2 linked regions of the Homo sapiens genome follow. The protein of the gene in region 1 interacts with the protein of each later gene in a biochemical or structural test. Each region holds a gene or a part of one and is shown on either strand. Other genes may lie near its edges.

Region 1 (7,248 bases):
AAGATGGGCTTTTTAATGCTGGGATCACTGGGTAGCCATTTGGAAAAGGTAAAATTAGATCTATAGTCCACATCATACATAAGAACAAATGCCAAATGGATCACGAATCTAAATGTAAAATATGAAGCTACATAACTACTAGAAGAAAACATAGTGAATTCCTCTTTAATCTCAGTATGGGAAAAGGCTAACTATGACTTAAAATCCAGGGGCAGCCGGGTGCACTGGCTCACACCTGTAATCCCAACACTTTGGGAGGCCGAGGCATGCGGATCACGAGGTCAGGAGTTTGAGACCAGCCTGACCAATACGGTGAAACCCCATCTCTACTAAAAATACAAAAATTAGCCGGACGTGGTGGTCCTCACCTGTAATCCCAGCTCAGGAGGCTGAGGCAGGAGAATCGCTTGAACCTGGAGGTGGAGGTTGCAGTGAGGCGAGATTGCGCCATTACACTCCAGCCTGGGCGACAGGGCAAGATTCCATTTCAAAAAAAAAAAAAAAATAGTGGCCAGGCACAGTGGCTCACGCCTGTAATCCCAGCACTTTGGGAGGCCAAGGTGGGTGGATCACCTGAAGTCAGGAGTTCAAGACCAGCCTGGCCAACATGGTGAAAACCCATCTCTACTAAAAAATACAAAAATTAGCTGGGTGTGGTGGTGCATGCCTGTAAGCCCAGCTACTTGGGAGGCGGAGGTTGCAGTGAGCCGAGAATGAGCCATTGCACTCCAGCCTGGGCAACAAGAGCAAAATTCAGTCTCAAAAAAAAAAAGTATGCTAATTTGGGAATCTTTTATTGCCATAGTAAAATTAATTAATTAAATTAAAAAATCAAAAAATAGTATGCAAAATATACCATAAGCAAAGTCAAATACAATTTACAAACTAGGAGAAAATATTTGCAACATAAAGCACAAATAAAAGGCTAATATTCCTAATATACAAGGAACTCATAAAACTTGAGGGACAAAGGATAAAAATCCAATAGAAAAATGGAAAATAGGCCGGGCACAGTGGCTCACACCTGTAATCCCAGCACTTTGGGAGGCCGAGGTGGGCGGATCACCTGAGGTCGGGAGTTCGAGACCAGCCGGACCAACCTGGAGAAACCCCGTCTCTACTAAAAATACAAAATTAGCCAGACGTGCTGGCGCATGCCTGTAATCCCAGCTACTCGAGAGGCTGAGGCAGGAGAATCGCTTTAACCCGGGAGGCGGAGGTTGCAGTGAGCTGAGATCGTGCCATTGCACTCCAGCCTGGGCAACAAGAGTGAAACTCCGTCTCGGAAAAAAAAAAAAAGAAAAATGGAAAATAGACAATTCCGAAAAAAGGACATTATATATATGTTTAAACATATCAAAAGTTTATAACTGAAATCTGGGACAATTCAAGCAACAAAATAAATAATGATAGCAATGGATTATAACTCATAAAGCAAATATCTCCTATCATCCCGGCACTTTGGGAGGCCGAGGTGGGTGGATCACTCGAGGCCAGGAGTTAGAGACTAGCCTGGCCAACATCAAAACCCCGTCTCTACAAAAAAATACAAAAATTAGCCGAGCACAGTGGCATGCACCTGTGGTCTCAGCTACTGGGGAGGCTAAGGCAGAATAATCTCTAGAGCCCGAGAGACAGAGGTTGCAGTGAGCCAAGACTGTGCCACTGTACTCCAGCCTGGGCACGGGAGTGAAACTCTGTCTCAAAAAAAAAGGCAAAGAAAAAAGAAACTACTCTTCTAGGCCCGGCCTGGTTCCTCAACACTTTGGGAGGCCTAGGCGGCAGGATCACTTGAGCCCAGGAGTTTGAGAGCAGCCTGGGCAACATGGCAAAACCTGGTCTCTACAATAATTTAAAAATTAGCTGGGCATGGTGTTGGGGGCCTGTAGTCCCAGCTATGTGAGAGGGTGTGGTGGGAGGATCGTTGGAGCCATGATTGTGCCACTGCACTCCAGCCTGGGTGACAGAGTCAGATTATGTCTCCAAAAAATAAATAAAAGGAAAAAAGGGTAGGGGGGAAGACTCTTAGTCCATAATAGTCTACCTTTCTCCCATCCTTGATTGTGAATTTAATCTGTTGGGGAATGTGGTTATTTGTCCTGTGGAAGTTGATTACTTCATCTCGGTGTTTTTATTTTTCCCTTTCTTGTATTTCCTGTAAACTGTTGGCTAGATCTAAGGTTTAATTAGATTTGAGTTCAATTTGAGGGATCAGGAATACTTCACAGGAGGAACTGGGTATTTTCTATTGCATCACATCATGAGGTATCTCGTATCTGGTTATCTCACTTTTAATGGTACTAAGATTGATCAGTGGTTCAAATGGTATCAACCTGGCTGGGCGTGGCAGCTCACGTCTGTAATCCCAGCACTTTGGGAGGCTGAGGCGGGCAGATCATCTGAAGTCACAAGTTCCAGCCCACGCTGGCCAACATGGTGAAACCCCATCTCTACGAAAAATACAAAAATTAGCCGGGTGTGGTGGCACGCACTGTAATCCCAGCTACTCGGGAAGCTGAGCCAGGAGAATCACTTGAACCCGGAGGTGGAGGTTGCAGTGAGCCGAGATCGCGCCACTGCACTCCAGCCTGGGTGACAGAGCAAGTCTCCGTCTCAATAATAATAATAATAATTTCTTTTGTAGAGATGGGGGCTCACCATGTTGACCAGGCTGGTTTCGAACTTCTGGCCTCAAGCGATCTTCCGCCTAGGGTCTCCAAAGTACTGGGATTACAGGCGTCAGCCACCACACCCAGCCAAGTTCAACATCTTTTCTAAGAGCCAGATGTCATTTAAGTTTATCCCTATCAATAACTGACATTCAAATGCTGAAATCTTGCCCCCAGTGGTAGCAATCTTCATAATAATGCCAGATGAACTTTCCTACCATAGAACTATAGTTGAAAGTCTATGTCAATCTTTTTACTACAAAGCACTGTAGGAAAAAAATTTAAGATGAAACTAATTTTTAAAGTTGCATTACACAAGTAAAACTCATCTCAGAGATTATTACTATGATTGGGAACCAAGTTGACAGATTTGGGAGGTCTTCACTGTGAAGCTTTATGGAAATATCTAAGTCAAAAAAACTAGTAGGGAGCTAAGCATTATAAAAAAAAAACTACACGGCTGTCTCTAGGAGGGGGAACTGGAGCAGGGACACGAGGCAAGGAGCAGCGGCTTTGCATCATAACCTCATCTGTGCATGTACTACGTCGACATTACACAGGGCAAATATGGAAGAAAAGTAATACAGTCAGCTGACAACGTGCCCCCCAAAAGCCTGTTATATATACACGATTCCAGCCGGGCGCGGTGGCTCAGGCCTGTAATCTCAGCACTTTGGGAGGCCGAGGCGAGCAGATCGCTTGAGTCCACAAATTCGAGACCAGCCTGGGCAGCATGTCAAAACCCCATCTCTGCAAAACACACAAAAATTAGCCGGGTGGGCCGGGTACGGTGGTTCACCCTTGCAATCTCAGCACTTTGAGAGGCCCAGGCGGGCAAATCACCTGAGGTCAGGAGTTTGAGACCAGCCTGTCCAACATGGTGAAACCCCCGTCTCTGCTAAAAATACAAAAATTAGCCGGGCGTGGTGGTGCATGCCTGTAATCCCAGCTACTGGGGAGGCTGAGGCAGGAGAATTGCTTGAACCTGCGAGGTGGAGGTTGCAATGAACCTAGATAGCGCCACTGCACTTCAGCCTGGGCAACAGAGTGAGACTCCGTCCCAAAAAAGAAAAAAATTAGCCGGGCGTGGTGGCGCGCGCGGGAGCCTGAGGTGGGAGGATCGTCTGAGCCCGGGAGTTTGAGGCTGTGGTGAGCAGTGATCGCTTCACTGCACTTCAGCTTGGGTGACAGAGCGAGACCCTGACTCAAAAAATAAACAAACATAAAAAAACGCTTCCAATGTTTTGTTCCCTTACATCAGAATCCACTTGGACAATATTTAAAGGGGCTAAGGTCATATAAGGCTCATCTGGCGACTGAAAAGTCTTCAAAGAGGTTGACGCGTCCGAGGTGAGTCTGAAGTTTGGAGGACAGCACGGGACCGCGATTCCAAGGCGCCCAGGTTGAGAGCGCAGGCCGCCCGCCAACCTCCACCCTCGCTCCAGGCCCAGCCGACACAAAGCCTCGCGGGAGGTGGAGCCTCGTGACGTCACAGAGACGCCCGCCCCCTTTACGTCGTGCTCTGAGGAGGCCAGGAGATTTCTGGCGGCGCCGGCGCCATTTTGCTGGAGCCTGCGACCGAGTGGGAGTGGAGTGGAGCGGCTGTGGTTGCCGACTCTTTCCTCTTCCCCACGGTCCAGTCAGCGGGTTAATTAGGCCATCGGCCCTCGAGCCGAGACTTGTCTCTTATTTAGTTCTGGGGAGCGCCTCGTCGACATGAGTGATGTGGAGGAAAACAACTTCGAGGGCAGAGTGAGTACAAAGCCGCGGGAGCCGTCTAGGCGGCGGCCCAATGCTCGGGGTTTCACGGGAACAAGCGCGGTCGGGCGGGGTTGCGGGTAGTCCCGCGAGGAGCAACCTCTGGAGCCATCGCGATTGATTCCTCCCATCCCAAGATGGCTTCTGGGTTCCACTCCTTCCCCAAACACCACGGATAACACCCCTCCCCCTTTTTTGGAGGCTGACTGATACCTGGACTTCTGGGTCCTCTTCCCTCCCCGCCCCCGCATTGCTTCCTCCCTTCTCCCCACCCCTGAGGCTTCCTTATGTCTGCTCCGAGGTGTGGGTCCCCGTCGCGGTTGGGCGGGAGGAGGCGGCAGGGAGCTCCCCTCCGTCCGGATAGTGGTAGGTGCTTCCTGCGGTGGCATTTCTGGCGACCCCGAGCATCGTAGAGGGTCTCGGGATCGAAAGTGCGCGGGGCTGCTTTCCGGGCGGGGAGAAGCTGGCGTGGGACTAGCTGGGGCCTGTGTCTCCTTGGCTCTCTATTTCAGTGAGCGGCCGCGTCTCTGTTGGAACCGGCGGCGTTGCGTCTAAAAAGGCGAAAGCCTTGAGGTTGAAGGTGGGACGAGCCTAATGAAGTGGTTAGTCAACGACCGCACCGACCCTTAAGCGTTCTTAAGACGAGAGCTGTGAGGGGAAACTACGCAAGGAGCCCTTTTCCCTTAATGTCCCTTCGACTTTCCTTTCACTTCGAAATGAATGTGGAAATGCTGTCACGCCTTATTTTTCTAATTCCTCGATGTTGGGTTTTTTCTCTTCTTTATATCTCAACTTTTAATGCTCTTCTTCCTATGACCTTTCATCTAAAAACTGACCACTCCTTTACAGGTTTTTACGGTAAAAAAAAAAAAATCTGTCTTTCTTTAATCTTACATAGCTGAACGAATTCATTGGCTCAGTATTTTTAAGATAACTAGTCAGTATATACTGTTCTGTAACTTAAAAGATGACCTGAAAATTAACAGGCCCTCTCCCATTTCTCTTCTCACTCTATCCCCCACCGAAGAGGGCTCAGAAAAAAGTTTTTATTAATATATTTGGGGTCGGAGAAATACAAACATCACAAAGAATACGATATCCCCAGCTTAAATGTACTGGAACGTTTGTCAGTGAGTTTCATTTCCAAAGTTTACCCTACATAGGGAATTGTAGAAGTGAGTTAGTAGAAGTGAGTTCGTGTGAAACCCTGGAAAGAAAACAAAAGCCCCATGCAACACGTTCCGGGCTGTTGTGTAGATGTTTATTCTAGTCACTAGGGGAAGCACATAAAAACACCTGAGGTGTGTGTGCTGAAGGGCGAATTTTGTCCTTTTGGGGAGTTCATGATATAAACATCTAGAACCAAAAAGTCAAATCAGAAGGTCAGTTTAGGCTTTAGTTCTCTTTGAGGAAAGATTTAAAGCAATAGACTATAATAGTTACCCGGTAGACTAAAAAATTTGCCTTTAATTCTTTTGATTGGAATTTTTTTTTACAAAGTTTGGAGCATGGAAACAAATGAAAATTGAACCTGCTTATTTTTTAGGATGGTGTATTGATGGCCCCAACAGAACTTTCTAAAATCATGCGATAAACATATATGATAGTAGTTGTAAAATGCTTCTTGTTTTGAAAATGTTGAGTAATTATCGATAGAAATTTTGCTGTCCATTCATACATTCCTTCAATTAACTTTCATTGTTAAAAAATTGGGGGATTGATGTTTGGTTTGGTTTGTGGGGAGTGAAGAGGACTACTGGAGGGACCTTGTTTGCTTGCTTTTTTTCTTTTTTTAATTTATCATCAAGTCTAGGAAAGGAGTAAGTTGCCGACAATTGTCACTTTTCCCTCCTAAGAAAGTAACATGTTAAGATTCCCACCTACCAGCCTGGGTGACAGTGAGACTCCCGTCTCAAAAAAAAAAAAAAAGATTCCCACCCACTTTTAAGCTAAAGTATATGTAGGCATTAAAGATTTATTTAATAGAAATAAAGGGCCCTCTTACGGCCCTTTGTGGTCATAGGAAATATTTTTTTCACAAGTGGTACCCAAGTGTATTTTAGTGTAAATCAACTAGTGCTTGTAGGCTCACCTGTTGTATCTTTTTATTTTTCGTCTTTTAGTTTTTATAGGATGAGATAATTGTCTTTATTTGTAATTGGTTAAAGAATTAGAACAATGCGAGAAGCTTGTCTGGAGATGCCCTTTTTAAAATCGTTTCTGGCCGGGCGCAGTGGCTCACGCCTGTAATCCAACAATTTTTGGGAGGCTGAGGCGGGTGGATTACTTGAGGTTAGGAGTTCGAGACTAGCCTGCCCAACGTGGTGAAACCCTGTCTCTACTAAAAATACAAAATTAGCCGGGCGTGGTGGCGTGCGCCTGTGATCACAGCTACTTAGGAGGCTGAGGCAGGAGAATTACTTGAACCTGGGAGGCGGAATTGCGCCACGACACTCCAGTCTAGGCAACAGAATGAGACTCTTGTCTCAAAAATAAGTAAATACGTAGGTCCATAAAAGCAATTTTAAGTGGAGATGTCCTTTGGAGCTGGGAGTGAAGGTAGCACTTAAGCGGTGGCTTTGCATGTCTTGATAAAAGTAATGAGTTGTTTGCCTCAATACAGCTTCAACTAAAATTCGGATTTTGAGCTCAAAAAATGTTAATGCCCTTCATAGAAATTAAGGGGAATGGAAATCTTTTCTTAACATTTTACACCTCTACCCCTAAAATTTTAAGAACTGTACTTTATAAAAATGTGCAATTTTCATACAGCATCCCAGTGTTGATCATGGAGGTTAATGATTCTTTATTGTTAGGGACC
Region 2 (7,024 bases), on another chromosome or scaffold:
TCTAACCATGCTTGGCATCCTTGCTATTCCTGGAACAGCTCAAGAATGAGTTTACCTCAAGGCCTTCTGAACCTGCTGTTCCCTTTACCTGGGAACATTCTTCCCCGAGCAAGCTCCCAGCCATCCCTGAAATTCTTTTCAAGACCACCTCCTCAAAGTGCACACGTTACACATATCTGATTGTTCTCTGTACCTGTAGGCCACAGAAATACTCTGTAACAATACTCCATCCCTAAGTATTTCTCTTCACAGCACTTCTCATCAAATGACACCTTATGTGAACATGTTTGTTTGTTTGTTTCTTTGCTTTTGAGACACAGTCTCACTCTGTCGCCCAGGCTAGAGTGCAGTGGTGCAATCTCAGCTCACTGTAACCCCTGCCTCCCGGGTTCAAGCTATTCTCCTGCCTCAGCCTCCTGAGTTGCTAGGATTACAGGCGTGCACCACCACGCCCGGCTAATTTTTGTATTTTTAGTAGAGACAGGGTTTCACCATGTTGGTCAGGCTGGTCTCGAACTCCTGACCTCGTGATCCACCCGCCTCAGCATCCCAAAGTGCTGGGATTACAGGCGTGAGCCACCACGCCCGGCCATGCTTGTTTTTTATCCCTCTCCTCCCACTAGGACGAAGCTCCATACAGCAACGTTTGTCTGTTATCAGGGATGCAGCTAGTCAACTGTAAGCGCTGTTGAATGAACCGTTTACAGGAAGACATTTCCACTAGATACTACAAGTGCCGTGTGAGAAAATGCACTTTGCACAGAGAAGTCTTTCTGCCTTCTTTCCCTACAAGAGCTTGGGGCTACTTGATGAGCTCCACTCTCAGCAATAACAAACGGGAATGAAAGTCCACTGGAGGGCTGGGCCTGGCGGCGGGCGCCTGTAATCCCAGATACTCGAGGGGCTGACCCAGGAGAATCGCTTGAATTCAGGAGTCAGAGGTTGTAGTGAGCCAAGATAGCACCACTGCACTCCAGCATCATGCCTGTAATCCCACAACTTTGGGAGGCTGAGGTGGGTGGATCATTTGAGGTCAGGAGTTTGAGACCAGCCTGGCCAACATGGTGAAACCCCTCTACTAAAAATACAAAAATTAGCCGGGCAGTAGTGGCATGTGCCTGTAACCCCAGCTACTCGGGAGGCTGAGGCAGGAGAATCACTTGAACTCGGGAGGCGGAGGTTGCAGTGAGCAGAGATCGTGCCACTGCACTCCAGCATGGGGACACAGCGAGGCTCTGTCTTAAAAAACAAACAAACAAACAAAAAGTCCACTGGGGCTTCCACTTCCTATCTCAGAAGGGACCGTAAGAATGCTATAAATGTGGCCGGGCACAGTCGTTCACGCTTGTAATCCCAGCACTTTGGAAGGCCGAGGCGGGGGGATCGCCTGAGGTCAGAAGTTCGAGACCAGCCTGGCCAACTTGGAGAAACCCCATCTCTACTAAAAATACAAAAATTAGCTGGGCATGCTGGCGGGAGCCTGTAATCAAAGCTACTTGGGAGGCTTAGGCAGGAGAATTGCTTGAACCCAGGAGGCAGAGGTTGCAGTGAGCCGAGATCAGGCCATTGCACTCAAGCCTGAGTGACGAGAGCGAAACTCCATCAAAAAAAAAAAAAAAAAAGAATGCCAAAAAGGTTACAGTTGGCTGAGGTTAAGTCTTGTTTTAGAGGTAGTAAAGCGATAGAAAACTCTGGAGTCAGAACCTGGATTAGAGTCCAGGTTCTACCACTTACTAGTTGTGTGCCTTTCAATAAATTAATTTCTATTAGCCTCCATTTTCTTATCTGTAAAACAGGGGATAAGGATGCCAACCTTGTGAAGCAAGTTTATATCCTTATTATCATTCTCTGTCTCTTGTCTACAATGAACAAAAGGAGAGGAAAGGGCCTGGCAGGATACATCCCACTGTCCTCCCAGGCTTAAGAAAGAGTCCTGGTTATAAAGTGAATGGTAGCAACTATCTTCTGAGGAAAAAAGGGACCTCAGGTCCTCAGGCCTGTTACAAGGGAAGAAATGGTCAAAGAGGTGGGGATGTTAGGCTGGGTGCGGTGGCTCACGCCGGTAATCCCAGCACTTTGGGAGGCTGAGGCAGGCAGATCACCTAAGGTCAAGAGTTTGAGACCCGCCAAGCCAACATGGAGAAATCCCGTCTCTAATAAAAATACAAAAAAATTAGCCAGGCATGGTGGTACATGCTTGTAATCCCAGCTACTCGGGAGGCTGAGGCAGGAGAATCGCTTGAACCTGGGAGGCAGAGGTTGCAGCGAGCTGAGATCGCGCCATTGCACTCCAGCCTGGGCAACAAGAGCGAAACTCCATCTCAAAAAAAAAAAAAGAAAAAAGAAGAAAGAAATGGAGATGTTAGAGCACCAAGGCCAGAGTGGGGGTCTACATGTGGACTCATCTTTTTGGTGGTCCAAAATTAAACTTGCAATCTCAGCACTCTGGGAGGCTGAGGTGGGCAGATCACTTGAGCCCAGGAGTTTGAGACCAGCCTGGGCAACATGGCAAGACCCTGTCTCTACAAAATATACAAAAATTAGCCGGAGGCCTGGCGTGGTAGCTGACACCTGTAATCCCAGCACTTTGGGAGGCCATGGCAGGCGGATCACCAAGGTCTGGAGTTCAAGACCAGCCTGGCCAATATGGTGAAACACCGTCTCTACTAAAAATTAAAAAATTAGCTGGGCATGGCTGGCAGCTACTTGGAAGGCTGAGGCAGGAGAATCACTTGAACCCAGGGGGCAGAGGTTGCAGTGAGCTGAGGTTGCGCCACTGCACTCCAGCCTGGGCGACAGAGGGAGACCCTGTCTCAAAAGACGAAAAAAAAAAAAAGAAACATGTGCTTTCTCCAAAATCTGCTGCTTCTCTGGAATTCCTTATTCAACCCTTATCTATCCTTCTCCATAGCTAGAAACCAAGGTGTCATTTCTCCATCTCTCCTCCCCTCCCCTCCTTCACAGCTAACTGATCATCAAAACTGGGTTAATCACAGTCCTTGGTATTTTTGGTGTCTGTCTGCTCCCCTCCATTCCCACAGGCAATGCCTTAGTTCCCTTGGACTCCACTGCCTCGCTCCTATACAGCAACAACAGCCTCCTAATATGTCTTGCAGTCTGCAGCCACCTTCTCCCAAACTACCCTTTACTCCCTTGCCACCCATCTTTCTAATCTCTTAAAATCCCTAAAAGGCATTTTACAGAGAAAGTTCAAACTCAGCCACGTGCAGTGGCTCACGCCTGTAATCCCAGCACTTTGGCAGGCAGAGGCAGGTGGGCCACTTGAGGTCAGGAGTTTGAAACCAGCCTAGTCAACATGGTAAAACCCCATCTTTACTAAAAATACAAAAAAAAAAAAAAATCAGCAGGGCATGGTGGCATGCACCTGTAATCCCAGCTACTTGGGAGGCTGAGGCAGGAGAATCACTTGAACCCGGGAACCAGAGGCTGCAGTGAGCCGAGATCATGCCACTTCACTCCAGCCTGGGCAACAGAGAGAGATTCTGTCCCAAAAAACAACAACAAAAAGAAAGTTCAAACTCCTAAACGTTTCTGACAGCCCTCCAAGATCAGGTACCTGCCACACACCCGAGGTAAAACCCACCTCTCCAGTCACACTACTTGCTGCTGTTTCTTGAGCTCCCCAATTTCGAGCCAGTTCCCAGGGCAACTGCTACTCAGCGTTAAGTATCACTTTTTCTTGAAAGTCTTCACTAAGACCCTGCCTCTCCCGGGGTCCCTTCTCATGTTTCTTAAGTGAGTTGTGCATACCTCCACCATAGCACCTGGCACTATTCTATAACTGTTGGATTCCTATCTATCTCCTCTACTCAAATTTAATTATAATTGCTTTTTTGTTTGTTTTTCTGTGTGTGTGTTTTTTTGTTTGTTTGTTTTTTTGATGGAGTCTTGCTCTGCCTCCCAGGCTAGAGTACAGTGGCGCAATCTCGGCTCACTGCAACCTCTGTCTCCTGAGTTTAAGCAATTCTCCTACTTCAGCCTCCTGAGTAGCTGGGATTACAGGTGCGTACCATCACACCCAGCAAATTTTTGTATTTTTAGTAGAGACGGGGTTTCACGTGATCCGCCTGCCTCGACCTCCCGAAGTGCTGGGATTACAGGCGTGAGCCACCGCGCCCGGCCCCAACTCCCAAATTTTTAACGCGACAGGCATTTAAAAAAAAAATTGGGAGTGGGAGGACCAGTACCAAAAGCCCTGATCACATCATGAATGCATTCATGCAAAACAGCACTTCTACAGAAAAACTATGTATATCAAAACAGAGTGGGTCAGTGTTACGTAGGATGTTGATACAAAAGCTGTGGTGAATTTATGTCAGTTGTTGAGCAGTAGAATAAAGAGGACTTTCGAGTCCAGAGCACTGGGTTTGAATTCCAACCCCATCACTTCTAAGCCAGGTCGCTATGGACAAGTTACTTAACCTGAATCCCAGTTTCCTGACTTGTAAAATTAGGAAAACAGTACCTGCTTGATTATAATGTTTTCTCTAATGAGAAACAGCTATCAAGTGCCTGGCACAGAAGAGGCTCCTAAGGCTGTTGTTTAATGTCAATTTTCTTCCACTTACAGAACCTTGCTAAAAAGTCCAAGGTCACATATTCTGCATTTGGAAAGGAATACTTAAAACACTTTCTAAATCTTTTTTTTTTTTTTTTGAGATGGAGTTTCACTCTTGTTGCCCAGGCTGGAGTGTAGTGGTGTGATCTCGGCCCACTGCAACCTCCGCCTCCCGGGTTCAAGCAATTCTCCTGCCTCAGCCTCCTGAGTACCTCGGATCACAGGCATGTGCCACCACGCCCAGCTAATTTTGTATTTTTAGTAGAGATGGGGTTTCTCCATGTTGGACAGGCTGGTCTTGAACTCCCGAACTCAGGTGATCCACCCACCTCGGCCTCCCAAAGCGCTGGGATTACAGGCGTGGGCCACTGCGCCCGGCCAACACTTTCTAAAATCTTGACCACACCCGGAATCCCAGCCAACCATCTTGCAGATGAACTAGGTCATAAAGAAGAGTTAGGAGAGAAAAATCACTTATGCAATCTCATTACCATTGTCGAAAAACAGTTTAAAACACCTACTTGGCTGGGCATGGTGGCTCATGCCTGTAATCTCAGCACTTTGGGAGGCCAAGGCGGGTGGATCACTTGAGCCCAGGAGTTTGAGACCAGCCTGGGCAACATGGTGAAACCCTGTCTCTAGAAAAAAATACAAAAATTGGCCAGGTGTGGTGGCATGAGCCTGTAGTCTCAGCTTGGGAGGCTGAGGTGGGAGGATCACTTGAGCCCAGGAGGCAGAGGTTGCAGTGAGCCAAGATCATGCCATTGCATTCCAGACTGGGCGATAGAGCCAGACCCTATCTCAAAAATAAACACACCACCTACTCACAGCACCACCTTGAGATACGAAAAACAACACATGAGTAGATTATAGAATTAATATAATGTAAATAATGATGCCTTGGAATGTAGGTTCCTGAAGAGAATGAACTTAGTCATGGTTCTGCAATGAACCTATAGGCAGTGAACTATAGGGCAATGAACTCACTGTAATACACTATATAAATAACAAACAACAGTGAAGTTAAAGTACTCTACTTAAAAGCACAAGACTACCGGGCACAGTGGCTCATGCCTGTAATCCCAGCACTTTGGGAGGCCGAGGCAGGCAGATCACCTGAGGTCAGGAGTTCAAGACCAGCCTGACCAACATGGAGAAACCCCGTCGCTACTAAAAATACAAAATTAGCCGGGTATGGTGGCGCATGCCTGTAATTCCAGCTACTTGGGAGGCTGACGCAGGAAAATCGCTTGAACCCGGGAGGCAGAGGTTGCAATGAGCCAAGATCGCGCCATTGCACTCCAGCCTGGGCAACAAGAGCGAAACTCTGTCTCACAAAAAAATTTAAAAAGCACAAGAATTCTAGGTGATCTATGACAGGGACCAAAAAGTGCACATAATTTAAAAGTTCCTAAAGCTACCAGTCTGGTTATACCAGCCTTTTTCACGGACTGTATAATCATACATTTTCATTTTGTTAAAATATGAAACTCTGCCTTACCTAATTTCCTAAATTAGATTAAAAGATCACCGCCTTGCCTGTTTTAACCCTGAAATATAAGCTTGAAGTTTCAATAATATAAGTGTATTATTTTGTAATCAAATCAATGTCACCTACCATATCTGACACAAGTTTTCAACTACAGAGTAACAATACAAAGGCAAAAGCTTTGGAAATGTCTCATGAGAACTGCTTACCTAACCTCAAAAATTTTTAATTGAATTAAAAAGAAAAACTTCAAAGATATTTTTCCCAAAATAACTATTTGTCTGGCTCCCACTTTGGGAGGCTGAAGTGGGAGGATCGCTTGAGGTCAGGAGTTTGAGACCATCCTGGGAAACATGGCAAGACCCCCGTCTCTACAAAAAAAAAAAAGATTTTTTAAATTAAAAACAAACGAATATTATTTGTTCTAGGTTCTGCTGAGAGTAAAATTAACAGTTATTGAACCAGCCCTTTGTGTTCTGGACAACTAATTTGTTGAAGATAATTTTACATTGATCCTGTATTAGTGAATTTAATTTTTTTCATTTATTTTAATATTCTGTTGACCTTGAAAAAAGTTTATTCTATTTCTTCCACAAAGGTTACATGTGTTCCTCATATGGTCACAAAAAAAAGTTACACCTTCCTCAAGGACTGATGAAAGTGAAGAGACACATTTTAGATTATACAATATCTTCACTGGTCTGTAATGCCTCACTGGTTTGAAAAGAATTTTTTGGTGAAAACTCAAGTATGCAAAAGCCTCTAAACCAAGGACTATTAACAGATCATCAAAAAAAAAAAAAAAAAGTAATTTATAGGAGTAAAGGACTACTAAAAAACTACCTCGGCCGGGCGCGGTGGCTCACACCTGTAATCCCAGCACTTTGGAAGGCCGAGGCGGGCGGATCACGAGGTCAGGAGATTGAGACCATCCTGGGCTAACACGGTGAAACCCC

Evidence for each region. The genes of interacting proteins can lie anywhere in the genome.
Region 2: of the proteins of TRA2A (region 1) and UBE4B, one has a biochemical effect on the other in vitro, tested with the Homo sapiens proteins (one study listed by BioGRID).

The regions. Positions count from the first base shown.
Region 1 is NC_000007.14:23,528,962-23,536,209, reverse strand, and holds the start of TRA2A (transformer-2 protein homolog alpha), read left to right. Parts: upstream 1-4,228; 5' UTR 4,229-4,385; coding exon 4,386-4,421; intron 4,422-4,939; exon of another isoform or gene 4,940-5,029; intron 5,030-7,248. UniProt on the Homo sapiens protein: Sequence-specific RNA-binding protein which participates in the control of pre-mRNA splicing.
Region 2 is NC_000001.11:10,035,934-10,042,957, reverse strand, and holds part of UBE4B (ubiquitin conjugation factor E4 B), read right to left. Parts: intron 1-7,024. UniProt on the Homo sapiens protein: Ubiquitin-protein ligase that probably functions as an E3 ligase in conjunction with specific E1 and E2 ligases. May also function as an E4 ligase mediating the assembly of polyubiquitin chains on substrates ubiquitinated by another E3 ubiquitin ligase.